6 separate regions of the Homo sapiens genome follow, and regions 1, 2, 3, 4 and 5 are each reported to be linked to region 6. Evidence: microRNA targets listed by miRTarBase, many of them from high-throughput screens and not tested one by one. Region 6 holds a microRNA gene; each other region holds the end of a gene's coding sequence.
The links. Region 6 holds the annotated microRNA hsa-miR-508-5p (UACUCCAGAGGGCGUCACUCAUG, at 1,897-1,919, shown strand). A microRNA usually pairs through its seed, bases 2 to 8, with sites in the 3' UTR of a target mRNA and lowers its output. Matches are read on the target gene's strand: a 7mer-m8 pairs with bases 2 to 8, a 7mer-A1 pairs with bases 2 to 7 and ends in A, and an 8mer does both.

Region 1: the mRNA of TAF13 is a reported target of hsa-miR-508-5p. The part of its 3' UTR that is shown has no 7-base or 8-base seed match.
Region 2: miRTarBase lists TMEM170A as a target of hsa-miR-508-5p. Seed matches in the 3' UTR shown: 7mer-m8 at 2,666-2,672, 7mer-m8 at 2,253-2,259, 7mer-m8 at 947-953 and 7mer-m8 at 579-585.
Region 3: miRTarBase lists TRNP1 as a target of hsa-miR-508-5p. The part of its 3' UTR that is shown has no 7-base or 8-base seed match.
Region 4: miRTarBase lists RBM43 as a target of hsa-miR-508-5p. Seed matches in the 3' UTR shown: 7mer-m8 at 800-806 and 8mer at 876-883.
Region 5: miRTarBase lists RBM12B as a target of hsa-miR-508-5p. Seed matches in the 3' UTR shown: 7mer-A1 at 808-814 and 7mer-m8 at 3,037-3,043.

The regions. Positions count from the first base shown.
Region 1 is chr1:109,060,072-109,065,147 of GRCh38, reverse strand. TAF13 (TATA-box binding protein associated factor 13) reads left to right here. Exons shown (of 4, transcript NM_005645.4): 4 at 455-1,008. The coding sequence ends at 625. Among named protein-coding and RNA genes, the nearest start is that of TAF13, 13 kb to the left of the region's middle.
Region 2 is chr16:75,443,475-75,448,550 of GRCh38, forward strand. It overlaps TMEM170A (transmembrane protein 170A), which reads right to left. Exons shown (of 3, transcript NM_145254.3): 3 at 1-4,214. The coding sequence ends at 4,084. Among named protein-coding and RNA genes, the nearest start is that of CFDP1, 13 kb to the left of the region's middle.
Region 3 is chr1:26,994,205-26,999,273 of GRCh38, reverse strand. TRNP1 (TMF1 regulated nuclear protein 1) reads right to left here. Exons shown (of 2, transcript NM_001013642.3): 1 at 4,662-5,069. The coding sequence ends at 4,804. Among named protein-coding and RNA genes, the nearest start is that of TRNP1, 3.0 kb to the right of the region's middle. RefSeq lists enhancers at 1-378, 1,160-1,279, 1,290-1,349, 1,302-1,596, 1,107-1,712.
Region 4 is chr2:151,246,294-151,251,369 of GRCh38, reverse strand. It overlaps RBM43 (RNA binding motif protein 43), which reads left to right. Exons shown (of 4, transcript NM_198557.3): 4 at 1-3,430. The coding sequence ends at 464. Among named protein-coding and RNA genes, the nearest start is that of RBM43, 13 kb to the left of the region's middle.
Region 5 is chr8:93,729,092-93,734,167 of GRCh38, reverse strand. It overlaps RBM12B (RNA binding motif protein 12B), which reads left to right. Exons shown (of 4, transcript NM_001377960.1): 4 at 1-5,076. The coding sequence ends at 763. CIBAR1 (CBY1 interacting BAR domain containing 1) reads right to left here. Exons shown (of 9, transcript NM_145269.5): 9 at 2,641-5,076. Among named protein-coding and RNA genes, the nearest start is that of RBM12B-AS1, 8.5 kb to the left of the region's middle.
Region 6 is chrX:147,233,823-147,238,898 of GRCh38, reverse strand. MIR508 (microRNA 508) reads left to right here and starts at 1,872; the gene lies at 1,872-1,986. The region is part of intron 2 of LOC105373347 (periphilin-1); the gene reads right to left.

The DNA of each region.
Region 1 (5,076 bases), not on the chromosome of region 6:
AGGTCTTTGATTTTGCACAGGTGAGTATATAATGACAGGATGAGATAGAGTTATTTGATTTTTAGAAAACCCACCAATATTTATTGGGTATTAAGATAGAGGAGGACACAAAGCATAAATGAAATGGGTGGGTACACAAAATTATAAAATTATTTTATATAAATGAAGACAAAATCTACATATATCAAAAAACAAAAAAGGAACAATAAAGTTGACAGCTTTCATGTCCTTAAGATTTTTTTTAAAGTGCCTGTGAAGCATAAAGGAGAACATTGCTAATAATCCAGTAGAAAATAGACAAAGGACATGAGTAGAAAGATAATTCACAAATGAATAGCCATAATAATAATAATAAGAGAAAATCTTCTACCTCACTTGCAATTAATAAATGCAAATTAAAACAGTAAAATATTAGATTTAAAAAAGTTAAATGTAATATGTTTCTTTGTAATAGACTCACAAGGCAATGTCAATTGGAAGACAAGGTCGAGTACAAGTTGAAGATATCGTCTTCTTGATTCGAAAGGACCCAAGGAAGTTTGCCAGGGTTAAAGACTTGCTTACTATGAATGAAGAATTGAAACGAGCTAGAAAAGCATTTGATGAAGCAAATTATGGATCTTGACACTTTTTGTAGTTTCCGAAAATTACCATCTGGGGAAACCATATATAATAATTGTATATTTTCTAAAGTAAGATTCTGATATCTAGCCATGTAAATGAAAGATGGAGAAACACAAAGTTTTCAGCCTTTATTTTTATGCCTTTGATTTTAGGGTGATATTGGTGCATGTAATTGCCTGCCTTTATATTACCATACTTGAATTACTTACTGGGTTTTAATGACCACACATAAGTCAAAGTACCTTGCAAACCATGCCGTTGTTCTGACTTTTGACTATTTAAAGGATAAAGTAGTATTTAATGTGTTAGGTATGTTTATGCCCTTGTAAGCTATACTGTAGCTTTTTTTTTTTTTTTTTTTTTTTTTGAGATGGAGTCTCACTATGTTGGCAGGCTGGAGTGCAGTGGCGTGATCTTGGCTCACTGCAGGCTCCACCTCCCGGGTTCAAGTGATTCTCCTTCCTCAGCCTCTCGAGTAGCTGGGAAGTACAGGCGCCTGCCACCACGCCTGGCTAACTTTTTGTATTTTTAATAGTGACGGGGTTTCACCATGGTAGCCAGGATGGTTTTGATCTCTTGACCTCGTGATCCACCTGCCTCGGCCTCCCAAAGTGCTGGGATTACAGGTGTGAGCCACCGCGCCTGGCCTACTATAGCTGTTTAATATGTGAAATCTAAATGGCATTTTTGACTTGACAGCTCAGACTTGTACTTCATGTATTCAGAAGTTTTTAGACAACAATTAGTTTATTGTCTAGTTCATTATTAAAGATAATGAACTAGGCCGGGCGTGGTGGCTCACACCTGTAATCCCAGCACTTTGGGAGGCTGAGGCGGGCAGATCACTTGAGGCCAGGAGTTCCAGACCAGCCTGGCCAACATGGCAAAACCTCACCTCTACTAAAAATTAAAAAATTAGCCAGGCATGGAGGCATGTGCCTGTAATCCCAGCTACTTGGGAGGCTGAGGCAGAAGAATTGCTTGAACCCAGGAGGCAGAGATTGCAGTGAGCCGAGATGGCGCCACTGCACTCCAGCCTGGGCAATAGAGTGTGACTCTCAAAAAAACAAAGATAATGAACTGGTTTGCATTTCTTTTAAAGAGATGATAGAGGAAAATATAGTTTTTTGTAAGAATGTTTATCTCTCTTAAAAGATAATCTTTTAATTTTCTTCAGATAACAAGTTATTATTATTTTTTAAGAAAGCAAGTTTCACGGGCCGGGCGCGGTGGCTCACGCCTGTAATCCCAGCACTTTGGGAGGCCAAGGCGGGCGGATCACGAGGTCAGGAGATCGAAACCATCCTGGCTAACACGGTGAAACCCCGTCTCTACTAAAAATACAAAAAATTAGCCGGGCGCGGTGGCAGGCGCCTGTAGTCCCAGCTACTTGGGAGGCTGAGGCAGGAGAATGGCGTAAACCTGGGAGGCGGAGCTTGCAGTGAGCCGAGATCGCACCACTGCACTCCAGCCTGGGCGACAGAGCGAGACTCCGTCTCAAAAAAAAAAAAAAGAAAGCAAGTTTCACATGAATAATGCTGTGTTGGAAGGCTTTTTGATTTAAAATCTTTTCGGATTTATAACATCCTGTTAAGTTTTAGGAGAACCCGTTTTCCCAGAGCAGATTCAAGCTTCTAAAAATAAATGCTTTCAGTAGCAGGAATGGCATTGTTTAAAAAGCTGATGGCAGGGTAAGCATTTGGGTTAGTGTTTTATTAACATATTTGTAAGTACTTGTTCATTGTGGAAATGTGTCCTTGACTAAAACCATACGTGGCTATGGAAACCATGTTTGTAGTTCTGAATACACAGGTTTTGTGTGTATTTACTCTATGTATTAAATTATTATTGCCCTTAGTTTAAAGTAAGGATTACAATTGGATTTAAGTAGATCACTGAATGTTATTGTTTATGAAACTTAACTTTTTGTATGCTGCTTATAAACATGATCTATAAATCAGTGCTTGGGAAAATTTTACTTTCTTAATCTACTGATACAGGAATAAAATATGAACAATTAAACAGGTTGATCCTTGAATCTGACTGATTTGTGACTTTTTTTCCTCCCAGAATATTATGCCCATTACTGGTAATATGATAATTCTTGCTGCTTAGTCTAGCTGAAAATTTTTTTTATTTCAGTGAGTATCTGGGTGAATCTTTTCATTTAAAAAAGCAGGACTGGGCCGGGCGCGGTGGCTCAAGCCTGTAATCCCAGCACTTTGGGAGGCCGAGGCAGGTGGATCATGAGGTCAGGAGATCGAGACCATCCTGGCTAACACGGTGAAACCCCATCTCTACTAAAAAATACAAAAAAACTTAGCCGGGTGTGGTGGCGGGCGCCTGTAGTCCCAGCTACTCGGGAGGCTGAGGCAGGAGAATGGCGTGAACCCGGGAGGCGGAGCTTGCAGTGAGCCAAGATCACGCCACTGCACTTCAGCCTGGGGGACAGAGCGAGACCCCGTATCAAAAAAAAAAAAAAAAAAAAAAAGCAGGACTGGGCACCATGGCCCATGCCTATAATCCCAGCACTTTGGGAGGCCTAGGCAGGAGGATCTCTTGAGCCCAGGAGTTGGAGACCAGTCTGGGCAACATAGAGAGACCCCATCTCAACTAAAAATCAAGGCCAGGCACAGTGCCTCACACTTGTAATCCCAGCACTTTGGGAGGCCAAGGCAGGTGGATCACTTGAGGTCAGGAGTTCCAGACCAGCCTGGCCAACATGGTGAAACCCTGTCTCTACTAAAAATACAAAAAAATTAGCCGGGCGTGGTGGCATGCCTGTAGTCCCAGCTGCTTGGGAGGCTGAGGCGAGAGGATTGCTTGAGCCCAGGAGTTGGAGACCAGCCTAGGCAAGCCCCATCTCTGTAAAAAAAAAAAAAGAGCCAGGCACAGTGGTTTCCGCTTGTGGTCCTAGCTACTCAGGAGGTGAGGTGGGAGAATCACTTGAGCCTGAGAGGTCAAGGCTTCAGTAAACTGCTCACTCTGTCACCCAGGCTGGAGTGCAGTGGCACAATCACTGCTCACTGCCTCGACCTCCTGTGCTCAAATAATCCTCCCACCTCAGCCTCCCGAGTAGCTGGGACTACAGGCATGCCTGGCTAGAGAACCTATTTCACTGTGTTGCCCAGACTGAGTGGGGCTTTGCGTTGACTATTTTAGGTTGCAAGTGATATAACTTAACTCAATACTATTAATAGCATAAACAAGGAATTTATTGGCTTACCTAACCGACACATGGGAAAGGGGATGGAGCTGAATTTAGGGTTGACTGGATCTAAGTACTTGAGAAGCAAGACTGTCTCTCTGTCTTTTATCCTAATTTTGGTTTTATTCTAAGAGTGGCAAATGAACATGATGGCCAGCAGTTCTGGGGTTCCCTCCTTACAACTCCAAATTGAAGAAGCTGCTTTACTTCGTAATAGAGAAAATTCCAAGCAAGGATTATGAGGATCCGAGCTCTGCTTATTTTCTTCCTGGACCAGTCACTATGGCCAGGAAGAAGTTGTACTATAGCCCGGATCTCTTGCCCCACTTCTGGTAAAAAAGAGCTTGGAATGGGATTGGGATACTAGATACTGCTATTAGCAAAAAGGGGAAAGAGGCTCGGCGGGCTGACTTGATGCCTGAGCTTACTTATTAACTTCAAATTCTGGTAGTAAGGTGGCATGGCTGTCTTCCAGTATTTAGAGCTGCACTGTGTAAATGGTAGCCACTAGCCACATATGGCTGTTTACATTTTAAAATGAAAAATTCAGCTGGGTGCGGTAGCTCACGCCTGTAATCCCAGCTTTTTAGGAGGCCAAGACAGGCAGATCACTTGAGGTCAGAAGTTCAAGACCAGCCTGGCCAACATGATGAAACACCATCTCTACCAAAAATACAAAAATTAGCCGGGTGTGGTGGTACGTGCCTGTAATCCCAGCTACTCGGGTGGCTGAGGCAGGAGAATTGCTTGAACCCAGGAGGCAGAGGCTGCAGTGATCCGAGATCGTACCACTGCACTCCAGACTGGGCAACAGAGTGAGACTCTGTCTCAAAAAATAAAATATTTAAAAAATGATAATAAAATGAAAAATTCACTTCCTTAGTTGCGTTTGCTATATTTCAAGTGCTCAAAACCCTTATGGTAAGTGGGTACAGCATTGGACAGTGCTGATATGGAACACTGCCATCATCACAGAAAATTCTTTTGGACAGTGCTGATCTGGAGTATATATAGGTGCTCTCTCCTAAATTAATTCACTTTTTTTTAAACTTCCTATGGAAAATCTCAAGTATACACAATAATAGTGTAACTAGCCCCCAGCTTCAACAAGTAACCAACTTTTTGCCAATTTGTCCTATCCCCCTACCTTTAAATAATTTTCTTATTTTTAATTTTGGACCTTGGTTTTAGAACCCTTACCTTTTTTAAGGTAGGGGGGCAGTATTATTTTAAAGCAAATCTGG
Region 2 (5,076 bases), not on the chromosome of region 6:
ACCGATGCTTCACATTCCAGGAAATGGTTACTTAGGGAAGGTTGATATGTGCTGCAGCATAATAGGAACTTAATTCAAACCAGAGCAACCAGAAAGGATACTGGAGGCAAAAGCCAAAATACAATTTAAAATCTTAAAAAAAATAAGGAACGGTTTAAAGGTAATTAATGAACTTTTCCTCACCTAGTGTAAACATTTCATAAGAAGTAATATTTTGTGGTCACAAAAAAAGCACAGATACCTCTTTTAGAATATTCATGATGCTCTTGTGTATGAACTTAAGTTTTCATGAAATGCTTTCACCTCAAAACCCCGTATTCAAGAATCAAGAAGGCCAAGCATGATGGCTCATGTCTATAGTCCCATCACGTTGGGAGGCCGAGGCGGGTGGATCACTTGAAGTCAGGAGTTTGAGACCAGCCTGTCCAACATAATCAAACCCTGTCTCTACTAAAAATACAAAAATTAGCTGGGCCTTGTGGCGGGTGCCAGTAATCCTAGCTACTCAGCGGCCAAGGCAGGACAATCACTTGAACCCAGGAAACGGAGGCTGCAGTGAGCTGAGACCATGCCACTGCACTCCAGCCTTGGAGACAGAGCAAGACTCCATTTCAAAAAAAAAAGAAAAAAAAATCAAGAAATCAGCTTTTATGGTCAGGAGGCTGCCTCCCTCCCTCTCTTGCATTTCTTTTTTTTTAAAAAACAAAGCAGAGGCCGGGTGTGGTGGCTCATGCCTGTAATCCCAGCACTTTGGGAGGTGGAGGCGGGTCAGGAGATTGAGACCATCCTGGCTAACACGGTGAAACCCCGTCTCTACTAAAAATACAAAAAATTAGCTGGGCATGGTGGTGGACGTCCGTAGTCCCAGCTACTCGGGAGGCTGAGGCAGGAGAATGGCGTGAACCCGGGAGGCAGAGCTTGCAGTGAGCCGAGATCATGCCACTGCACTCCAGCCTGGGCGACAGAGCAAGACTCCGTCTCAAAACAAAAAAACCAAAAAACCAAAGCACAGCTGGGGGAGGATATTTCTAAGAAATCAGTTTTTGGCAAAAATTCTCAAAACTATATAAGGTAAAATGTTCAACACAATTGCCAATATTCTTCCATCTGAGTGACCACCCCCAAATAATTCTATATTTGAGACATAAAAAAGAAAATCAAAGCTATTCCTTATGATTCAAATAGTCTTTCCCTGAAAACATTTCAAGCTACACCGCTCAAGCTATTTAAAATCTATATATATATATAGATTTATTCACTGGAGAATACTTCACCTACTGGGATGGATGAAACACTCAGTAATTTGAAGATACCTTTTATACGTTTAGTTTTTTAAAAGAGTAGATAACCAAAATATATCAAACAAGAAACAGAAACAAATACACCTTTCAAAATGCCCTAATTTTAAGTCTTAGCTCCAGTGAAAAATATCTAACATTTTAATCATGTATCAGTACTTCAAAAGTTACTGTTTAAGAGGAGGGGCCCACTAACTACTGGTCTATATGTTTAGTGTATGAAATTACATCCAAAGAATGCTTTAGGCAAGAACTCCTTCAAAAGACATTTTTCAGTAAGAGGCATCCTTCAGTAGAGATGATGGCAATCATTTCCCATAAGAAAAGTTACCAATTCCCCAGATTTCTTAAACTGAAGGGATACTTTTGAAAATCACAGCTCTTTAAACAAAAAACTAGAATTTTTACAATTTGCCTGTGAGAAAGATTTGAGCTTCTTGTTAGGGAATTTGTAAGAATATTTGGCTGCATTACAACTCTACTTATAAGTTTCTGCCCGTGTATATGTCACTATAGTTTTGATAAGTTAATTACCAAAATTAGTAATATTATTTTAAGACAGGGTCTTGCCCTGTGGCCTAAGCTGGAGTTCAGTGGCGTGGTCTCGGCTCACAGCAGCCTGAACCTCCCAGGCACAAGTGATCCTCCCACTTTAGCCTCTTGGGTAGCTGAGGCCACGCCCAGCTAATTTTTTTTTATTTTGTAGTAGAGACAAGGTCTCACTATGTTGCCCAGGCCAGTCTTGAACTCTTGGGCTCAAGCAATCCTCCCACATCGACCTCCCAAAGTGCTGGGATTATAGGTGTGAGCCACTGCGCCCAGCCATAAGTGGTCTAATTAGTCAAAAGAATATGTCCAGTTTTTGTGATCTCTTTGTAATTCTTTTCTATGAGTTTCCCTGGCAAATTGGTCCTCCTGACTTTTTTCTTTTTTTTTTTTTTCCAAATTGGGCAGACTCCAGAATCACAGTAGATTCAGAGACTCTCCTCCTGGCTATTTTTAATCAGAAGCCAGAGTGTGTATTGCTTTAAATGGAATAGATACGTTCATGTGTATATGACCTCATGGGCTGTTAAGCCTTAATCTCACAATGAAAACTTTCCTTTAAAGATGTCAGATTTATGGCCAGGCGCGGTGGCTCACGCCTGTAATCCCAGCACTTTGGGAGGCCGAGGCGGGTGGATCACAAGGTCAGGAGTTCAAGACCAGCCTGGGCAAGATGGTGAAACCTATCTCTACTAAAAATACAAAAATTAGCCGGGCACGGTGGCAGGTGCCTGTAATCCCAGCTACTCAGGAAACTGAGGCAGGAGAATCGCTTGAACCCGGGTGGCAGAGGTTGGAGTGAGCTGAGATTGCACCACTGCACTCCAGCCTGGGCAACACAGTGAGGCTCCGTCTCATTTAAAAGAAAAAAAAAAAAAAAAGTCAGATTTAATCACCAGAAACTATTTTGCAGATAACCACCACCACTACCACCACACTGATTGTATTCCATACAAAACAGTTTAGGTGGAAAGGATCACATTAAATACTTAATTTCTGCGATTCTTTCCCTCTCAAAGAGTCACAGTTTTCAGGCCTTTTAATGAAAAAGAAAGTTAGGCAGTAGAATAAAAATTTAAATAGCTAAAATTAAGTTTTAAAAAAACTCTTGATATTTAAATCTCTTTAAAGATATAAATTCTTTTGAATAAAAATGTAAAGGGGAGAGTGGGTACATATCTGAACATTAAACTTTAGGCACTTTCTGGGAGTTGATACCCAATACTGTAAAAGTGGGCTGAAGAGTTACCACTAGGTAAACACATTAAGCTAAAAAATCAATAACCACTAACTCTAGTTTCAGATGCACTTCTATAGTTTCTCAAGGGTCATTAGTATACCAAAGTCACTAAGAAAAACTATGACAGAATGCCTAAAGTATCTTATGTGTGCCTCAATGTCCAAACAAATCTGGCTTAAAATTTCCAACTCAAGCCATTTAATAGGGTATGTATGTTTCCAATTAAATGAAATAAAATTAAGAGAATTAAAAGTGATAGGGAAAGGTGGTACAGAAAATCTAAAAAGTCTAAATTAGCTAGCTTATTTTGATAAAACATACAAAATAACAAATTCACATCTCTTAAAATATCTTAATCAGAAGTCAAGACAGTTGTCCAGAAAATGTCACATTATTCATTGTTATCTACTTTTTATTTATAAACAGTGGAACCAAAGCCACTACTTGAGTTATACTTAAATTTTTTTTCCTGCTTTATTTCACCAAATTTGTTTTCAAAACTATACTCAACCAAAACCTATTTGGCATTTATTGTCACTAAGATGTAGCAAAGAAAAGAGTTTGCCAAATTTTAATCAAGATTAGATAAGATTTTAATACAACATACTCTGCTCATTTGAAATAAACCAGTATCTTCCACGGTTTCTTCAAAATATGCGACATCTCACAGAATACTGTAAATTTCAGTGCAAAGGATGCCACCCCAGAGACACTGTTGACTTGGCTTGGGTAAAGGTACACATGAAAACTGCTTAAATCAAATATCTACAAAAAAGAAAGCCAAAAGACTTGTTTTGGTTGAGAACAATAGGAGTCCACATAAGTCTTCAATTCTAGGAGCTTCAAAATGAAGAAAAGGCTGAGATGTGTTGTCCTTCATGTTCCTGTTCATCCAAGTTGCTTCCCTTTGAAGAACTAAGAAAACACTACACTCCATAATGTATTCTTTTGGAGGATTCCATAAAGTTTAAGTTCAACATCTCAGCATAAGGATGTATGCTATAGAGTAGCTAAAATCCGTAAAAAGGAGACCACCAAGACGCAAAATGTCTGTCCAGTGCCCAGTGTGAGGGCTTCAAATGGTATCATTTCCTTCCCTGCTGCTCGGTAAACTCCAGCAATAGCTGCACCTGATTTAAAATGCAAGAATGTTAAACAAAAACAAAAAACGAAGGTTAACAAACTCACGAAAATACAACATTTAAAATACTACTGCGAGTAGAATGTTCCAGATTTTATACTGAAATTTAAATCTTACAGAAATGTTAGGTTTTCCCTATTCTTTCTGTGGACTACTCTACACTTTGAGTATTCATTGCATGGCTTGCAAGATCACTTTTAGATGCTGACTCCTTAAAACCCAGAGTCTCCTAGATTTATTGAATAAAATAATCTGGAAGAAATAATCAAAATCACAAAGATAGCAATTCCCACATGACCAGATTATGAACTCAAAAATATCTGTATTCCCCTACCAGTTACCCCATGCCTAGCCTTCAACAGGGACCTAATACATTTTTGGTAACAAATGAAAAAGGATCTTTTGAGTTAGACTAAGCAAGAAATGTTTCAGGCCACAGGGAATCCCCACTCCACCTTCTATCACACTCATAGTTCCCTTCAAGAAATGGACGGAGGAGGGACTAGAGGGGTGAAAAGGGAAGACAGGAGGACTCTAAGCCATAAAGTTGTTATTCATTCACAGGGCATGAGAGGAGAGATACTCAGGGATTCCTTTGTCTCCCAAGTCATTGATTGTTTTTATTACGCTAGTCACTATAATTTCCTGCAAATTGGAAAAACAAAACGAAAACCCCTGTATCTATGCAGATACCCATTTGAGTTACTATACGAGTTCAGCATTATACCAAGGAAGTGTACCAAGAAAGTTAACATTTCATTCGTTTGAAAAGAATAGATCCGGCCGGGCACGGTGGCTCACGCCTGTAATCCCAGCACTTTGGGAGGCCGAGATGGGTGGATCATCTGAGC
Region 3 (5,069 bases), not on the chromosome of region 6:
TAGCTGGGATTACAGGGGTATGCCACCACGCCCGGCTAATTTTTGTATGTTTAGTAGAGATGGGATTTCACCCTGTTAGCCAGCCCAGATCTACAGGGAGAGGAGGCAGCCCTCCAAGGCAAGCCCTTGGGAGGCTTGAGCCCTGAGCATCCTTGGCCCACCCTCCTCAGAAGCCAGGTTGCTGACTCAGCCTGACTCACCCCCAGGGCCCAGCCAGGTTGGGGTGTGCCCAAACTCTGGGAGGGGCACCTTCTGCCACCCCTCCAGCATCTCATGTCCCTTCCAATACCCAAGGACCAAGGGTCACTATACACAGCCTTGAATGTGGGAGCCCAGATATCCCCCTAAACGGACCTCTCTTTAGCCTGATAAATGAATCACCATATATCCTAATGTTTAAGAGATCCCTCACTTATAGCTCCTATGTCTTTGGGCAAGTCACCCGCCCTCCCTCTCTGTTTCTTCACCTGTGGAAATGGGAATAATAACCCTTACTTTGCAGAGTGGTTGGGAGAACCGGAACAGATTAATGGGTGTAAAGTGCTCAGGGGCCTGGCATAGAGGAGGTGGTTAAGATATTATTCCAGAACCAAGAGTTCCCTTCCCCCATCGCCCCTGGCCAGGGTGCAGTCAAGGACCAATGGGGGAAGAAGTAGGTTGGGGATCTCCAGGCTTTCCCAAATACCTCCTCCTGCACCGCTCTCATGACAGCAGGCCTCTCCTTCAGCTCTGAGAAGCCTAAGCACCCGAGTTGTTCTTGAAGAACCCACCAACAGGGGAGCGGCTGCAGGCTTGGACCACCTTGGCCAGGTTCTGTGGCTCCAGCCTAATCTCTAAGAGGCAACACTGGCCACCACTGGCAGTGGGACCCTGGGTTCTGATCAATTAGTGTAACAAATCTGTGAATACAAAATAACTCTGGTCTTTTATCCTGATAGTGACCCCAACAAGGGCTACCTGTCTTTTCTGGAAGTCTTTCCTAATGGGTCTTCTCCCTGGGGTTCCAGGCTCAGCCCAACCAAAGGAGCTTCCTTTGCTCCCCCCTTTTTTTTTCAGTAGAGGCGGGGTTTCACCATGTTAGTCACGATGGTCTCGATCTCCTGACCTCGTGATCCGCCCGCCTCAAACTCCCAAAGTGTTGGGAGTACAGGTGTGAGCCACCGCACCCGGCCTTGCTCCCCTTTCAAAGAGGGTTCCCGCCCCTAGGGAGCCGGTGATGGGCACAGCTCTGGCCTCTAGTCCCACTCCACCCAGGAAGCTATCCCCAGAACTACACTCCCACTCTAGGGCTGCGCTGACCGCGACTACCCTGCTCGTTCTCCCAGGCCCCTGCAGCTCAAGGTCTAGGAAGCCCCGGGGACTACCGGGCAAAGGGATGATTGGGGGCAGGAACAATAAAGGACTGAACCTCCTCCAGGCCACACCCCTTCGTCTCGAGAAAGCAGCCCCACACTGCCCTCTGGTGGCAACGCTCACATGGTTATCCAGTTGAGGGGCAGGTCCCAGATTAGAACCTTGAACTGGTCTCCCAGCCCCAAGCACCAGCCTGAAGAAAGGCTCCTGTTCCCCCCTCATTTCCCTTTGCTGAGATATAAATTCATTGGTGGCCGTCAGTGTCCTCAATGCACAGGTCCCCCAAGATCCCTGTACTCAGTCCTGTCCCCAGAGCTGGGGGCCACCAAGAAAGTGTTCTGAAAGTCATGTGGGGAAAAGGGGTGGGTCAGCCTTCTGTCCGAGGCTAGAGCTGGCCTCCAACAAACTGCTCAGCCCCCAAGGGATCCCCTGGGATGGTGACAGCCAGAAAAGCCTGCCTGGAAAAGAGCCAGGAGACATAAGCCCTTAAAAGTAGAGACCCTCCTCTGATTTGGCTCTGCTTTCTGAGCCCCTATCAATATTTGCTAATTAAGAAGAAAATGGAGGCAGACGGGTGAGCTTTTTTTTTTTTTTTTTTTTTTCTTGAGACACAGTCTTGCTCTGTTGCCCAGGCTGGAGTGCGGTGCAACCTCCACCTCCCGAGTTCAAGCAATTCTTTCTCAGCCTCCCGAGTAGCTGGGATTACAGGCACCTGCCACCACGCCCAGCTAATTTTTGTTATTTTTAGTAGAGAAGGGGTTTCACTATGTTGGCCAGCCTGGTCTTGAACTCCTGACATCAAGTGATTGGCCCTCGTGGGCCTCCCAAAGTGCTGGGATTACAGGCATGAGCCACCGCACCCAGCCTGAATAAAGCCAGACGGGTGAGCTTCTAGAGGGGGCCCTGGAGGGTCAGGCAGGTGTGGGAGGTGCCTTTTGTTAGTTGGCTATGTGGTAATGGACATAGCACTAACTAGGAGCTGGGGTTCAAGTCTACATGTGTGTGCCCTGGCCAGGAAGCTTGATGAGGAGCAGTGGGACATCTGGAAGTGGAGGGAGGGGGCAGAGCTGCCTGTGACACCAGGACCAATCTCCATTTACTACCCTCTACTTCACACACACACACACACTAGCCAGTGTCGTCTCTAATTCTCTACTCACCCACCCCACCCCCAAATCGGGACAAGCTGATTACAAATAAATCCTGGAGAAAGCCAAAACTGTGATGGCACCGAGCACTTTACACCATTAGCTAAAAGCTTCTCCGGACCAAGTGCCCCCTCCCATGCAACCCAGAAAACAAATGGTCCTGGCTGCAGCCCAGCACCAAGGCCTGAGCTCAGCTCTTTCCAAGATGTCCTGTCCTCTCTAAGCCTCTAGACCCCAAATGACCCAAGTGGCTTTGGAAGGTGTTCCCTGTTTGGAAAGACCAGAGGATGGCATTGCCCCCTTCATTACTTCCCTGGGGTTCCCTAACTTTGTCAGAGGCTCTGAGACTCCCTCCTGAACCTCCCTTCCCCAGCTAAGAAAGGGTTCAGGAAAGCCTTGCTGTTAGCCGAGAAACCAGCCAAAAAGTTTGGTATCCAGGGAGAAGGGCTGATGAGGGAGGATCCCATAAGGGCCCCAAGCCTCAGCCTATCAGAGCAGTGCACCTGACCCTCCCAGATTCCTGTGGAAGGAAGCATCCTCCCCACTTCACCCCATTCCCAAGCCCTGACTCAAGGAGGGACTGAGGAAAGAGGCCCAGAGAGGGGGCAGAGTTGTTCTAAGTCACAGAGCAGACAGGATCCAGAGGACAACTCTCCCTAGCCCCTGCCCAGGGTACTGTGGGAGGTGCACACACAGGCCAGGGACCTTGATTCTTCCCTCACTGGCATGTGACCTTGAGAAATCCCCTCTCCACCCTGCAAAAGTAGGACTTTAAATTAGCTCATGGCTCTATCAGCAAAAGCAGTGCCTGTTTCCAGGTGTGAGTTAAAATAATACATTATCAGCCAGGTGCAGTGGCTCACACCTGTAATCCCAACACTTTGGGAGGCCGAAGCGGACAGATCACCGGAGGTCGGGAGTTCAAGAACAGCCTGACCAACATGGAGAAACCCGGTCTCTACCAAAAATACAAAATGAGATGGGCATAGTGGCACATGCCTGTAATCCCAGCTACTTGGGAGGCTGAGGCAGGAGAATCGCTTGAATCCGGGAGGTGGAGGTTGCAGTGAGCCAAGATCGCACCATTGCACTTCAGCCTGGGCAACAAGAGCGAAACACTGTCTCAAAACAAACAACAACAACAAAAAAATTATCTTTCCATGATTTAGTGAGGAAGAAGAAGGACCTCTGCCCTGGGTTAACGTCACCACAGCCCCTCTGGGAGGTTAAGAGATCCACTTCGCAGACTGATAAGTGAGAGTGAAATTAACTCAGCTGGTGAGCAGCAATGTGGTAGCCAGGTCATTCACAGTGGGGACAGAGGAATGGGAGACTGAAGGGCATCTGGACAGGAAGAGAAGCAGATCTCACCTCAGATCTGGCTCTTTAAGGCCCCCCTTTCTGGAAGCTGATACCACACCTGCCCCCTTGGGGCCTGTTAAAGGGTATCACCTGGTTCCAACCTGGCCGAGCCATCTTAGTAACAGGTTGGGAGTTAAGCCTCTAGGTTCTGCTATGTAAGGATCCCTGGGTGAGCAGGTGCCAGACATCCTGTCCTGGTTATGTGAGTCAGGCTGTAATTTTTGCGAACCTGCATGACGGCATAAGAAAAGCTGTCTCCTAGAAGAAGAAGGGCCTAAGTATGAAGAGAACAAATCCTAAACCTCTCTGGGATTCCGTCTCCCCAAAGGTGAAACAGGCCTAGAGGGGGAATTCAGTGGTACAGCCCTGTGCCAGCCTCCACCCCATCCTGGGGCCTCATTATTCTGTCCTCCCGAAGGCACGGAGCTGGGCGGCGCCAGGAAGCAGCATCCTCAAGGGCAAGACTGCTCACAGCTCCGAGGGGCCCGGGAAAGGCCACGCAAGTGGGGGTGAGGATGGGGGGTGCTGCATCCGTGCGGCAGGTTCCAAGTGGTAAAAGTTTGCCGCCAACCCGTTCCTGGGATCTGAGCCCCCTCAAGAGTCCAACTCTTATAATGGAGACTTGATGCTACCACCTCTCACTCTCCAGATGGTCGGGAGAGGCGGCAACAGAAAGTGGCAGCTTTACTAGGGACCCAGCAGACGCCAGAAGCTCCAGGGAAGGGAGTTCCCGGGCCCTGGACCAGCCCCCCACACGCCATGACCGACCCTCGAACGCACCAGCCGCTAAGACCGCACCTCAGCCTCCTCTACTGGGCCCCTGGCCCCCAACTGCCTCTTCCTGCGGATCCGTAGTCCTTCCAGCCGGCGTCCGCGATCAGTCGGTCGGTCGGCACCTCGGCGAAGCTTGTCGGGGTGGCCAGGGGTCCGGGCGTGGAGGTCAGCGCTGCGGGGAGGCGGGGCCGCGGGGCGGGCTGCGGCGGAAGGGCGAGTCGGGCTCGGGGCCGTGGCCGCGCCGCAGTCGCCCGGCACCCCAGGGCACGCAGCCGCCCAGGCCCAGCGCCGAGGCCAGCAGCGCGGGGGGTCGGCCGCGGCGGCCGCGGCGCGGGCCCTTCTTGAGGCGCGACCCGTGAGCCGCCAGGTAGAGCTCGGCCTGCGCCACGCCGCCGCTCAGGCGGCTCAGGCTCTCCGCGCGGTGCGCCAGGC
Region 4 (5,076 bases), not on the chromosome of region 6:
CATCAGTCAGGACCTTAGTACCTGAGACTGCTAGAAGTGGAGAAATGCTTGTGCTTGACACAGATGTTTTTCTTTACCTGAAACACAAGTGTGGATCTTATGAAAGCACACTGAAAAAATTCCACATTCTGAGTCAGGAGAAAGTGGATGGTGAAATCACCACAATTTGTCTAAAAAGCATTCAAGTTGGTTCTCAGCCAAACAATGCAAAACATGTAAAAGAGCTCATTGAGGAATGGTCACATGCTCTTTACTTAAAGCTTAGAAAAGAGACATTTATTTTGGAAGGAAAGGAAAATAGAGAGAAAAGAATGATCAAAAGGGCATGTGAACAATTAAGTTCGAGATACCTTGAAGTCCTGATTAACCTTTATAGGACACACATTGACATTATAGGATCTTCTTCTGACACTTACCTGTTTAAAAAAGGGGTCATGAAATTAATAGGGCAAAAGGTTAGTTAATAAAATCTCAGCAATATAGTCATAAGGGCTGCTTTCTCTTGCTGAGCAGTGACCATTGCCATGAATGAGGCTAGCTTTACACACCGTATCTCATGAATCCTTATAGTCATCCTTCTTTGTCAGTGTTGACTATCCTCATGTTACAGCGGAAGAAACTAGGATTTGGAGAAGTTAAAACACTTTTCTGAAGTTATCCAGTTGACAAAGAATGAGGCTGTGGCTTAGCCCAGTCTATCTGATTACACAGATAATATCTAAGGAATAAAACTTTGAAAAAAACTCACCAAACTTTTTTTTTTTTTTTTTTGAGATGGAGTCTCGCTCTGTTGTCCAGGCTGGAGTGCAGTGGCGTGATCTCGGCTCACTGCAACGTCCACCTCCTGGGTTCACACCATTCTCCTGCCTCAACCTCTGGAGTAGCTGGGACTACAGGTGCCCACCACCACGCCCGGCTAATCTTTTTGTATTTTTTTAGTAGAGATGGGGTTTCACCGTGTTAGTCAGGATGGTCTCCATCTCCTGACCTTGTGATCCACCCGCCTCGGCCTCCCAAAGTGCTGGGATTACAGGCGTGAGCCACTGCGCCCAGCAAACTCACCAAACTTTGAAGGAATCTTACTTTCTCTGTAACTCCAAATTATTAGAGAATAATAATTATTAAGAAGTAGCCTTAACATATGAGAAATTTGAAAGGTGATTATTATGCCATGGGCAATTTCTTAACATTTACAGTTTGTGTTTACTCCGTGTAGAATTAGAATACTGGCAAAAATCACTGGGGAAACTACTTAGATGGAAAGCATATCTTATGCAGGTAATCATTATTTGACTAAATTCTATTGTTTCAAGGCTGCTGGCCACATAGGATGTTTTTACTATTTTTTTAGCCTAAGTGCTTACATAAAATGGTGATTCTTTTATAATTGTGCAAGTTGATAATATTAATTGAGTCATTCTTGTCACATCCAACTAAAACAGACTCAAGAAGCTAGGGGGAAAAAGTACTTGGGACACATAATATTGCTCCAAGAATGTAATTCTCTGTGAGCCTGGCTACTGAAACTGCTTGCTGTAACCTGAGACCAGTTTTGTCTATAGCTGCTGAGATAACTTGCTGTAACTCTAGGACTAATTTTACCTATGGCCATTGCCCACCAGTTGGAGCTTGCCAGCTCCCCAGGGCTTTACTAATACCAATGAACTTTCTCTTAAGATCACAAGTTGGCCGGGCGTGGTGACTCATACCTGTAATCCCAGCACTTTGGGAGGCCGAGGCGGGTGGATCACAAGGTCAGGAGATTGAGACCATCCTGGCTAACATGGTAAAACCCCATCTCTACTAAAAATACAAAAATTAGCCGGGCATGGTGGTGGGCGCCTGTAGTCCCACCTACTCGGGAGGCTAGAGGCTGAGGCAGGAGAATGGCGTGAACCCGGGAGGTGGAGCTTGCAGTGAGCCAAGACTGCACTACTGCACTCCAGCCTGGGTGACAGAGCGAGACTCCGTCTCAAAAAAAAAAAAAAAAAAAAAAGAAAGACCACAAGTAACATTCTTAGTTTTAAATAAAACCCTCAACCTTCTCTTTGTTTGTTGGACATACTAAAGATCACCTAGAATTGAAATTCTTTCTTCTCAAAACATTAAATTTAGTTTTGTGTCTACATTTTCATTTTGACTTTGACATGCATGGTGTCAGAAGTGGGATACAAAGCTGACTCACCTCATGGAGAATCATTGGCCTTTGGAGTTATGGCATGAGGTACCCATGTTGGGGCCCTTTGAACCCCCTACACCCCCACCACTTTCACAGGTAATCCTTTCTCCCTCCAGTAAGTATCTCTTGGACAGAACTCTCAGATATGGTTCGAGTTCTGTTTTATTTGGGATATGATTAGGGAGAGGTCTTTCCCCCTCTTGTTTGGTAGATCTGTTGGGTAGAATTATTTTCCCCCTGTTGACCTCAGCTGCGAGGTTTGGACCTTGAGGCTTGGATGAGGGAATTTTTCCCTTTCTTTGGAGAAGGCTTATCATTCTTACTGGTAAGCATGTATTTTATTTTCTGTCCTGTCTTGTATTTATTTGGCCTTTGTGTATTCAGTGCTTGCATTTACTTGGCTTTTGCATAGTTGACATTAAATCAGAGCACCCACGAAATGAGCTCTCAAAGTTCAAAGGCATGCCAGAATATTTTCTGGAACTCCAGCTAGTAACATATTCAAACATTACAGGGATCATTTAGTCTGTTTTTCTTAAAACTGAACTAAAAGATGGAGGCTATAAAATCATACACTCCAAATAAGATATGCATATTTCATTGATATCTTGAGGCTAAAAAAAAATAAAAACAAAAACAAAACACATTCAGGATACAAATATTGCCTTGTTAAAAAATACTGTCTCAAAGGTGGCTGAAACTTTCTTTTCTAGACCTTTCCCCTCCCCTTCTTACAGTATCCCCTCTTTATCCTTCTCTAAACAGCTATTCTAACATACTACTTAAATAAAAACACTTGAAAACCAGCAGATATAAAACAAAGTCATTTTGACCTTCCTACTGTTTTTTTTTTAAAGCAAAGATTAAATTCCCATGTAAAACCTTCCTCCCTATACAAAAAAGAATAGCAGCATTTTTATCTTCAATGACAAAGAATTGAGTCCAAGAAAATACTGTATAAACCTTGTTAAAAATCACTCTTGTCTTTTGGTCCTACTCACATAATTCAGCACACTTTCACAGTTAACTATTTTTTGTTCAATTTAGTGCACTGGTGAGTGACTCAAACTGCTTTATCCCAAATTTGATTTACAGCCTTTATAAGATTGCCTATTAAAAAAGCTTAAAGCTTATCCTTAGCCCATTTTGTCAGAAAAATAATTTGCATCTAATCATTTTTATAAACTGGTGAATTTACGTGTTTTACTATATCATGACTAAAATTCTAAAATAAAAGTTTTAATATCTTTATGTATATGTGTTTAAATGTGTTTATGTGTATGTACATATATTATGTTGAATGTTGTATCTACATAAAAGCTGGTGTAGTCAGCCAGAAATCCCTTAACAAATTTTATTCTGATTGGTTTAAATAAATGAGCACTCATATAAAATGTATAGTAATTAACCCCCAGTTTTTTTTAGTTGATGTGACTTAAGTAAATCTTTGATAAATTAATTGGTTTTAAAATTGTGGATAAAATAAAATTAGAAATGTCTTCAAAATTGTCAGCAGACATTTTTGTCTGGGTTTACTGGTCAGACAGTTTTATATTTGCCTCTGCTAGATGTTTTAAAGTCATAAAGCCTAAAACAAAATGATCTTTGTTTATATAGTTTTTAAATAAATATGATTATATTGTTGTTTTAATAAAAATAGCTGTAACTTTTCTGAGTTAGCAACAGGGTGGCTGTTTTTAACTTTAAGGTTCTTACTTAAACCTTAATATCAAGATAAATACTTCATGGTAACAGTCTATAAAACTGATTAATAAAAACAATGACTAGTTCTATCTCAATTTTCATAAATCTAGGAATAATTGAGAAATAAATCTTATAAATGAAATAAACATTTATAAATGAGCTTTTCATGTAATTTTAAAATCTTAAAATTATGTTAAATGATACTCATTAAATGTCTGGATCATATCCAAATTAAAAAAAAATTGCTAAATACATAGACATTTGTTCTTGGCTTCTTAGGTTTTATAAAAGGACTAAAAGTATTTCGGTCTATTAATCAAAATATAAATTTAGGAAAATACAATTGATGTATTAAAAATTATATGGTAAATTTTTATCCTAAGATAAAATAATTGGTTGTTAAAAATTTTATTTTTTATTTTTATTTTTTGAGACCGAGTTTTGCTCTTATTGCCCAGGCTAGAGTGCAATGGTGCAGTTCCAGCTCACTGCAACCTCTGCCTCTTGGGTTCAAGTAATTCTCCTGCCTCAGCCTCCCAAGTAGCTGGGATTACAGGCACCTGCCACCACACCAGGCTAATACATTTTTTTTTTTTTTTTTGAGACGGGGTCTCACTCTGTCACCCAGGCTGGAGTACAATGGCGCGATCTTGGCTCACTGCAACCTCTGCCTCCCGGGTTCCAGCGATTCTCCTACCTCAGTCTCCCTAGTAGCTGGGATTACAGGCATGCACCACCATGCCTGGCTAATTGTTGTACTTTTAGTAGAGGGGGGTTTCACCATGCTGGCCAGGCAGGTCTCGAACTCCTGACCTCAGGTGATCCACCCACCTTGGCCTCCCATCTTCCTGGAACTTTTTGAAACAGCAAGAACTCAAGGTGCAACAGTTACAGGTGGATACTTTTTCATAGCACATACCCCCAAAAACCTGGGGATCCTGGGTTACATAATGAGCTCCTTCTTGGATTATTTGCAAGAGTCTTCTAAGTGGGCCTTAATTCACCCTGTACACCACTACCAAATTCATGTGTCTGAAGTGATTCCTGGTATCTGGGAGGCTTAGACTGGAGGTCTGGTGTTAATTGCCCCACTCTGAAATTTCACTGCTATATTTAATATTTAATCATTTTATTAAATATTTAATATTTAATCATTTTATTAAATATTTAATATTTAATCTCGTATTGTCTTT
Region 5 (5,076 bases), not on the chromosome of region 6:
GCGGCCTCCCCCAGAGCACTTCCGGCGGCCACCCCCAGAGCACTTCAGGCGGCCACCCCCAGAGCATTTCAGGCGCCCGCCCCCGGAGCACTTCCGGAGACCGCCCCAGGAGCATTTCAGGCGGCCGCCTCAGGAGCATTTCAGGCGCTCCCGAGAGGAAGATTTCAGGCACCCACCAGATGAAGACTTCAGGGGCCCTCCTGATGAAGACTTTAGGCACCCTCCTGATGAGGACTTCAGGAGCCCCCAGGAGGAAGATTTTAGATGCCCTTCTGATGAGGACTTCAGGCAGCTCCCAGAGGAAGACCTTAGGGAAGCTCCGGAGGAGGACCCTAGACTTCCTGACAATTTTAGACCTCCTGGTGAGGATTTTAGGAGCCCGCCTGATGATTTTAGAAGTCACCGCCCTTTTGTGAATTTTGGTCGCCCAGAAGGTGGCAAGTTTGATTTTGGAAAGCATAATATGGGAAGTTTTCCTGAGGGGAGATTTATGCCTGATCCAAAAATAAATTGTGGTTCAGGTAGAGTAACTCCTATTAAGATAATGAATCTTCCATTTAAAGCTAATGTGAATGAAATTTTAGACTTTTTCCATGGTTACAGAATCATACCTGATTCAGTTTCGATACAGTATAATGAGCAAGGCTTACCTACAGGGGAAGCCATTGTTGCTATGATAAACTATAATGAAGCTATGGCTGCTATTAAAGATCTAAATGATAGGCCAGTTGGGCCCCGAAAAGTTAAGTTAACTTTGCTGTAGAGAGAGAGCATTTCTAAATTCAGTTATCTTCCTTGCAGTATTGATGGAGTAAAATACATTTGTTTTAAAAAAGTGTTTTTTTTTTAAATTATCTAATGAAATATTTTATTTTTGACCTGTGAATAGAACAAATGTAAATAGTAGAATGTGAATCTGGTTTTCTTTTGCTTGCAAATTGCCATTCTTTTTTTTTTTCAAATTTAAAATTACACATGCTGTTTTTTTCTTTGATGGGGAGAAAGAACTCATTCCCTGAGTTCATTCATTTTTGTTGATGTCATCGGTAATCTTCAAGACTTATTGAAGTAGAGTTGTATTTGGGGAAGATACATTTTATATTCACTTTTTTTTTTCTTTCTGTAGTCTACCTCTTTTACTCAAACTGTATAAGGAAATAGTGACTGATTGTTCAGGTTTGGCATTTTCATTGCTACCTGCCTGCAGAATTAATGCCCTCTTCCTTGTCTAAGATATTACTGTGTTAAGTGTCCTGTTAATTATAAATAGTTCAAAATGGACAGACTGTCAACTTGAAATTTACTTATGTAAAAAGCTTAGGTGATTCTTAGGGTTTCCATGTTCATAACTTTACAAAGCTTTATAAAAATAAAATTGCAACTTAATAGAGCTAATTAACTTGTATTTGTATAAAAAGAAAAAAGAATTGCAGCTCGATATTGTGAAGTTTTTCAATAACTTCATTAAACCATATTTATGATGGGAGGGACCAGACATTCTATAGTAATAATGTATAGTGCTGTGTATAATTCCATGGTTTCTTCAACATCTTATCAACCAAGTAAAATTAATACAAGATACGCAAAAGATAGTAAAATAAGAATCTAATTATAGGTGCAAGGGGACTCAGGCTTATGCTGGAAGAATCTGACAAGTGGTATAGTTTGTTTTTCTAGGAAGAATTTACTGATGAGTCACATAACTTGCATGTAATATTAGGTTCTCATTTTTTAGCTTCGAAACTGTGTCCATGCAAAGACTCTATAACTGTTAAGACTTGTGTGGTTGAATTTTGACTTCTTTGATATTCAGCATTTAGTGCATACATTTTGCAACTAGGGAATTTGATTTTCTATACCCACAATAATATTTATGGCTAACATTTATTAGGCACTTACTATGTGCTAGGCACTGTAAGCACTTTACATGCATAATCTCGGTATTCCCTGTGAGTACAGGGTTAATTATTTACCTCTATTTCACAAATGAGATAATGAAGTGGGATGAAGTGCGAGGTTAAGCAACTTGCTTGAAGTCATAGGTAGTAAATCGTGGGGCCAATTTTAACCCAGACAGACCACTGACTCCAGTTCATGCTTTTGCTGCCTCACTTTTTTAAGTGGTATTTTTAATTAGGAAGACCATGCTAAAGATACTTTCAAGGATAAATGATTATTTTCTCACTTCAATTGTTGGTTTAAAATTAGCATAAATAGGTAAAACCAGCATGCTCAAACACTGAGCTCAAACATTAACATTACTAATAAAAAAAAAAAGAGTGACTTTAAAAGTTTCTTTCTATCCAGGGTTTCTCTTGGGATACTCATATGGTATATTACTGGCTTATATTTCAAAATTATTTTATTCAACATGATTGACTTTGGCCTTTTATAATTTACATAAAACATAATTTTCCTCAGTTCTGTAATCCAGATTTTCCCCATTGAGTAAATAATACAATTAAATTTACATATGGTAATTTAGACATTTAATAGGATATTGCATAGGTAGAATACTTTGTCAGTACTTAGTTACTACCTATATGTATTTTTGTGTTACTTTTCAGTGATTTAAAGAAATCTAACAGAAATCTGCTTAAATTTGTTTTAAATAGTGAATATCCTGCTTGCTATGGAATGAATAAACAGGTAAATTTGATATGAAAAAGCACCTCAGTATGATTCTTTAAAGTATAAGCTTGTAAGTAGCTAGGATAATGTTAAATTGATTGTTTGGAATATCCAAACCAAGCACAATGAAGAAAGTAGAAATGATATTTTTAATTGAGCAAAGATTGTATAGATGGTTCATTTGGTCACCCATTTTGAATAATATATGGAAAGTTAAAAAATGCTTCTCAGATACAAAGGAATAAAGCTAAGATGAAGCTTAACGTGAGGGATTACTTACTGTGGAATTGCATTTCAAACTGGGCTGAGGTGGGATGGTGGTGGTAGATAAGAGGCCAGCTAGAGTAAACATAAGCTTTGTAGTTTTATTATTTTAAGAGTCAGAGTCTTGTTCTGCTGGCCAGGCTGGAGTGCAGTGGTCTGATAATGGTTCACTGCAGCTTCTAACTCCTGGGCTCAAGCTGTCTTCCTGCCTCAGCCTCCTGAGAGCTGGGACTACAGGTGTGTGCCACCTTGTCTGGCTAAATTTTTTATTATTTGTAGAGACAGAGTCTCACTGTGTTGCCCAGGCTGTTCTCAAATTTCTGGCCTCAAGCAATCCTCACTCCTTGGTCTCCCAGAATGTGTTGGGATTACAGGTGTGAGCCACTGTGCCCAGCCTTGTATTTTGATTTTTAAATTAATTTATATGAATATTTCCTTTTACCCTATAATGTATCAGGGCTTAATATTTTTAAACTTCATTATAAAAAGTTGATTACAGAAAGTGGTATCTTCTAGTTGGGAGCCATCTTTGCACATCTCTCTCCAACTCTGCCTTTAGTGATATGTCAATAACAAATTGGCCATGGCAGGAGTATTTTACACCATGGAAAGTGATAAATGCAGCAAATCAAGGAATTCCCCTCCTGTTGTCCCCTCAGAAAGCCAGCTTCCCAGCACCTCATCAATTTCAAATATAAAAAAAGAATAGTAAATTTTCATGTACACATCACTCAGCTTCAGTAATTGTCGTCTCATAGCCAGTTTTTCCTCTCCTATCCTCAAGGTATACCAGGTACACTGGAGGTGTATTCTCTAGCCTGATACCCAGTGGCATTTGTCTTAAAGCCAAACATTTTTGTCTAGAAATTATCTAAAAAAATGTAGATCATGTCTAGAAAGTCAATCCCACAACCAAGAGATAGGTAAAAATCATGTTAGGAGTGCATTTCTATTAATTTACTGAGATCACTGTTAAGAGCAGTGATTCTTGATCCATATATCACCTGTTAAGTAGTGACCTTGCTGCCTCTGTTTTTGCAGTAAATATTAGCTGTTGTTTATTGAGCTGTATTAGATACTATATGATGTATAATTATGTATGAATTAACTATCATTTAATTCTGATAATCCTAGTAAATGTACTACAGGTTGAGTATTCCTAATCTGGTAATCTGAAATTTCACATGCTCCGAAAATCACAAACTTTTTGAGTGCCAACATGATGCTCAAAGAAAATGCTCATTGCAGCATTTAAGATTTCAGATTTTTGGGTTAGGAATGTTGAACTGGTATAATGCAAATACTCCAAAATCTGAAGAAATCCAAAGTCTTAAATACTTCTGGTCCCAAGCACTTCAGATAAAGGATACTCAATTTGTATTCCTATTTTGGAGATAAGAGATGGAGACTTACAGGCTGGGTTGGTTGGATTGGTTGCCTGTTTTTTGTTGTTGTTGTAGTGGAAGCTAGGAATGGTTTTTCACATTTTTTAAGTGTACTTAAGTCTTACATGGTTACATAGTTACCTGTATAATAGTCTTGAATTTGCCTAAACCCACGAAGAATAACAGTATTTGCTATCTGGCCCTTTAAGAAGTTTGCCAACCTAGGCTGGTCTAAATAATGAAAATTTTACATTAATGAAAGTATTTTCATGGATAGTATTCCTTTTGTTCTTAGAATATTTCTTTGAGGTAGGCAGAATGTATGTTTTATTCCAGAATTACTGTTTTACGCAGTTTTAACTTTACAAACAAGGCAAATAATGCTCAAGAGAAGTTGCTATTTAGTAAGCAGCAAAATAATAACTCTGTTGTTTTCCCCCGAAGTACAACCAAATTTAAATACTGAGTGAGGAAGCAGTAAATATCCAATGATATCTTGAGTTTCTTAAGAATATCAATTTAGGGTTTTAAAATGTTTTAAATATTTTACAAAAAAGTACTGAAACAACTTTGTCACTTAGGACTATTCTCAGGAAGGAGTGCTTTGTTAAGAACAGAGCCATGATTGACAAAGTCAGAAGCTTTCTAGAAAGTCTTTATTTTTCTGTTATGAATAATTGCATTTTCTAATTATCCCAAATGATTTTATAAATTCCGTAACTTTTATATGCCTGCCTGGGATCCATGAAATAAAAGTATTCCTTACCAAAAGAGAAGCATCAGATACACTGAAAGG
Region 6 (5,076 bases):
ATTGTAAAATGTATATAAACATAAAATTTACCATTTTAATCATTTTAAGTGTAAAATTCAGTGGAATTAAGTAAATCCACAGTGGTGTGCAATGATCACCACAATCCATCTCCAGAAATGATTCATTATCCCAAACTAAACCTCTGTAACCATTAAACACTGACTCCCCATTCCCAGCTCTTGGTAACCTCTATTCTACTTTCTGTCTCTCCTAGTTTGCCTATTCCAGGGACTGAATAGAATAAAATCATACAGTAGTATTCCTTTGTGACTGCTTTATTTTACCCAGCATATTGTCTTCAAGGTTAATCCATGTTATAGCATGTGTCAGAATTTTATTTCTAAGCTGGACATGTATGCACATGACTGTAGTCCCAGCTACTCAAGAGGCTGAGGCAGGAAGATCGCTTGAGTCCAAGAGTTAGATTCTAGCCTGAACAACATAAGGAAACCCAGTTTAAAAAGAAAATTATTTCCTTTTGTAGGGCAAATAACATTTCCTTGTATGCATATACCACAGTTTGCATATCACTTTATCTGTTGATGAACACTTGTATTGCTTCTACCTTTTGTCTATTATAAATAATGCTGCTTTGAACATGGGGGCACTATGTCCCTTTGAAATACTGATTTCAGTTCTTTTGGGTATATACCCAATACTGCAATTGCTGAAATATGGTAATTATATCTTTAATTTTTTGAAGAACCACCATAGTGTTTTCTGTGGTGACTGTGCCATTTTACTTTCCTACCAGCAATGCACGGGGTTATAATTTCTTCACTTGTCAACACTTGTTATTTTCTGTTTGTTTGCTTGTTGATAATATTGATTCTAATGGGTGTGAAGTCGTATCACATTGTGGTTTTGGTTGCATTTCCCTAATTAGTGATATTGAGCATTGTTTCACTTATTTATGAGGTAGAATTGATTTTAGAAATATTTTTGTTTGAGTTTTGATTTATTGGTGTGTAGCTGTAGACTTGGGTCATTTTGGACTACTGACACTGGTGGAGGTTCCTGAATGCTGGGAGACCTGGACATGTCCAGATTAAATGTCCCACACCATAATCTCCCTTTCTCTTGCTCCATGGCAAGTAATTTAGCTAATCCTTTAATTTATTCAGTGCACCTCCCTCTCTCTTTACAGTCTTTTGTTTAACTTGGCTCCCTAGCTCTTAAAATATAACTAGTTTGGGGTCTGTGGATCTCTTACTCCTACTTGCTTCCCCCTTTCTTCAGCCTCAGTATTGAAAGGAAAAAATAGATTCCTGGGAGGCCTGTGTCTCCAAATGAAAATTTTGAAAGAGACCCTCTTGACAAGAACTCTAGGAAATGTTGAGAAAGTCCAGGGCTGAGAAGGAAGAATAAGATATAACTAGGTTCTAAGCCAATTGCTCTCTTGGAAATGATTCCAGGCAAGGTAAATGATCTGTATAATCCCCAGGAATGGTGGAGAAAATGAGATTTTTGTCCTATGAATCCTGGCACTGCCTAAATGATCTATCTCTTTTGCTTGAATTCTCTGCATGTTTACCTTGTTCTCTCTGTTGTTTTGGTGTTAAAAGTTAAATAACTCTGAACCAAGGGACTAGGAATTTGGGGGCACAGAGGGTGGGGAGACCTTTAACACTGGTGGAACACAAATCATTTTTAATATGCCATTCCTAATGACTTGAAAATACATAGGAAAATGTTGGTGAGATTATTTGTTGCCGACTGAAGAGAAGAAGTCCTCAAAATCAGCACATGAAATATGCAGCAAGTAAGAGTATCCTCACTAAAGGATGGTTAGAGAATGGGAATGGAGTGGCAAACATACTAGAAATTCTTCATCGTATCTAAACTTCACGTATATATTTGGGTAGAGCCACCACCTTCAGCTGAGTGTAGTGCCCTACTCCAGAGGGCGTCACTCATGTAAACTAAAACATGATTGTAGCCTTTTGGAGTAGAGTAATACACATCACGTAACGCATATTTGGTGGCCATGGGTGTGAGTGTATACAGCCGCATGCACAGAGCTGCCCTCCCTTGTGTCCAAGCACCACCCTCCCCTTGCTGGGCTAACTCAATGGACTCCCATAGGCAGGTCTTGAAAGGCAAATCCTAGGGACTGAGGGCTCCCAGGAAAAATCACCCATGTAGGCTTTCCGGGGATTTATATACCCTTGTCCAAAGGAGGCATGCCCACACAGGTAAGAAAATTTGTAGTGAGGATGTGGCTTTTCCTCTTTTTATATTCAGAGCTTCTACTGCTACAGAGCCCAACTATTCATTTTGCCTTGAAAAACCTCCAACGTATTTTTCCTCACAACATTTCTTTTAGCTTCCAAGCCTTTTCATTTCCCAGTGGGCTCTTCAAATTCCCTCCTGCCTCAGAAGCATCCCTCTGCACCAAAAAGCTCTTGCTCTTTCAGGATTGAAGACAAGCCTTTCCTTAAGAGTTTGTGTGTTCTTCCTTACTTGGAAAAATACATTATTTCCAAAATTATCTATCTGTTGGTTAAAAAAAAAATATATATATATATAAAATATTTATGTATATATTTTTAAAAAATATTTATATGTATATTTTAAAAAATATTTATTGAAAATATGTGTATATCAGTCCTTTCTAAATTCAACATATCTATAAAAGGTTAAGAAGTTGCCTAGAATATTTGTTTTGTTAGTTTTCTTTGAATTATATTTAACATTTTATTTTTAAAATTATATGAAGGAATAAAAAGAAGTGAAGGTATTCATCTCAGATTATTGAGAATGATAACATATATATTTGTCTTTTCCCTTCCACTTCCCTTCAGTTGCTCCTTCTTAACCTAAGGTCTTCAGAAAGAAAACTTGAGAATCACAGACAAAAGATGGCCAGCGCCGGATCCCTGGAGAACATCTTCAGACTGGAGCAGTGACTAGGAAGCAGGTTGTACACACTACGGTGCTGGAAAAATGGAGGTGGAGTGGGGTTGGAGGGTAATCATCCTGGTGACCCCTTCCGGATTAATTCTCATAAAGCACCTTAAGTGGGCAAGTTGAAGTTTATGGAATTTTGTTGTCATCTCGAGTCAGTGACATGTCTCACTCCGTTCCAAATCTTGGCAAAAATTTAGATTGTAATCAAGAGGAAGGGTATTCTTCTCTTATATCACTAATACTACTACATTATCGCCTGTGTACAACCAGTGTCTACTGCTCATGGTATCTTCTTCCCTATTTCATGAGCTCTAAGAGTTTTCCTGGGCAGAAAGTCTCACCACCCTAGATGTGTGTCTGGGGCAGTGACAGTGGCACCACTGCAAATTGTTCTCAAATTTGTGCTTATTTTTGAGAAGGTGTGAGTTTGTGTGTGAGTATGTGTGTGTTGGTTTTTACAAATGAGTTAATTTAGTTAGTTGATTCGTTCATGTGCATATTGTGGTTGGGTTTGGGGGGACTTTTCAAATTGTTTTTGCTTAGTAATATTGTTTATCCAGACATTGGTAACTGTCTGATTTTGGTTTTGTTTTTGTTTTTTGTGATATTATTTTGTTTATAATTGTCCTTTCATTTCCAGTCTCTGTGCATTTATTTTTCAAAGTTGGTTCTTCCTTTTTAGGTTTATTTGTTTATTTTGTTTGCTTGTATTATTATTTTTAACTGACACATAATCATTGTACATATTTTGGGGGTACAGTGTGATTTTTTATTGTTTGCAATTCAGTGTTCATGGCACCTCTGCTTGTTGTTTCGTTGCATACTTGAAGTTTTTTTTTTTTTTTAAGTTAGAATTGTGGTTTGTGTTTCAGCAAATGTTTTATTCCTGTTTCGGGGGGAGGGGGCTGTCATGATTTAATTATTAGTTGTTGGTTCCAATCTGAGTTTTCTTCTTTGGTTTTGATTTGGTTTTAATTTATGCGTTTGGTTTGATTTGTACTGAGAGGTGCTTGGGAGTTGTTTTAGTTGTAGTTTCCTTTGTGTATTTAGACATGTTTGTTTCTTTCCTGCTGTTTTGCTATATCTTTCTTTGTTTTATTCTCTAGTGTATTTCTATTTGCTTTTCAGCTGACTTTTTGTGTGTATATGTGAGTGGGTGGGTGGGTGGATGGATGTGGGTGTGTATGCGTGCATTTCTGTGATTATTTTTGAATGATGTTGACTTCTTTAAAGTATTTTGTTATTTTCCATGTATTTTTAGTTTCAGTTTGTGTTTATTGTTTTATTTTGTGTGTGTGTGTGGGGGGGGGGGGTTCTTCATTTTCCTTGTGTTTTGGGATATTTAAATTTGTATGAATTTTGTTTTGTTGCTGTAGTTATTTTTTCCCCTTTAATTGTGTGGGGCTCAGAAAGTTTTGTCTTTCATATATATGTGCGCTTTATTGGGGATGTGTTTTTTTTTTTAAGTTGTGGGAGTTTGCTTGGATTTTAAATGTTTTGCCTCAGTATCTGTGTGTATGCTTACATGGTTTGGTATTTGCAACATGCTTTCTAATTGATAAGTTCATGTATTGATTCTGTTTGGAATTTGTTGTAGTTGATTTATTTATTTATTTTAATCCTGTTTGTTGAGCTTTTCTAATTTGGGATGATTGTTGATAGGGGTTTAAAAATATATTATTGGTTTACTTTTTAGTTTTTATTTATTTGTGCCCTGTTTTTCTGATTCATTACTTTTTAAAAAATCATTTATAGAAGTTTTGGTACATAAGGCTAAAATTTCTTTCTTTTGTTAGGGATAATTTGCATTATTTGTTGATTGATTTTTTTTTTTTAGCTTATATGGTTTTTTTGAATTGTGTGTATGAGCATGTGTTTGTTATTTTGAGATTTTTGTATTGTGATAGCTTTAGTTCTTAAAAAGCGTCGTTGATACATGACTGACATAAAGTTTGCGCTTTGACATATTCTGTTTATACACCCATGAAATCATCCCCTAAATCAAAATAAATAGGGAATATTATACATCCTCCCTGAAAGATTCCTCCTGCCTCTTTGTGATCCTCATTTTCGGTCTTCTGCACATAACCACAGAGCCATGCAGCCACTAATCTGCTTTTATTCACTATGGATTAGATTTTATTTTCCAGATTCTTATTTTTTAT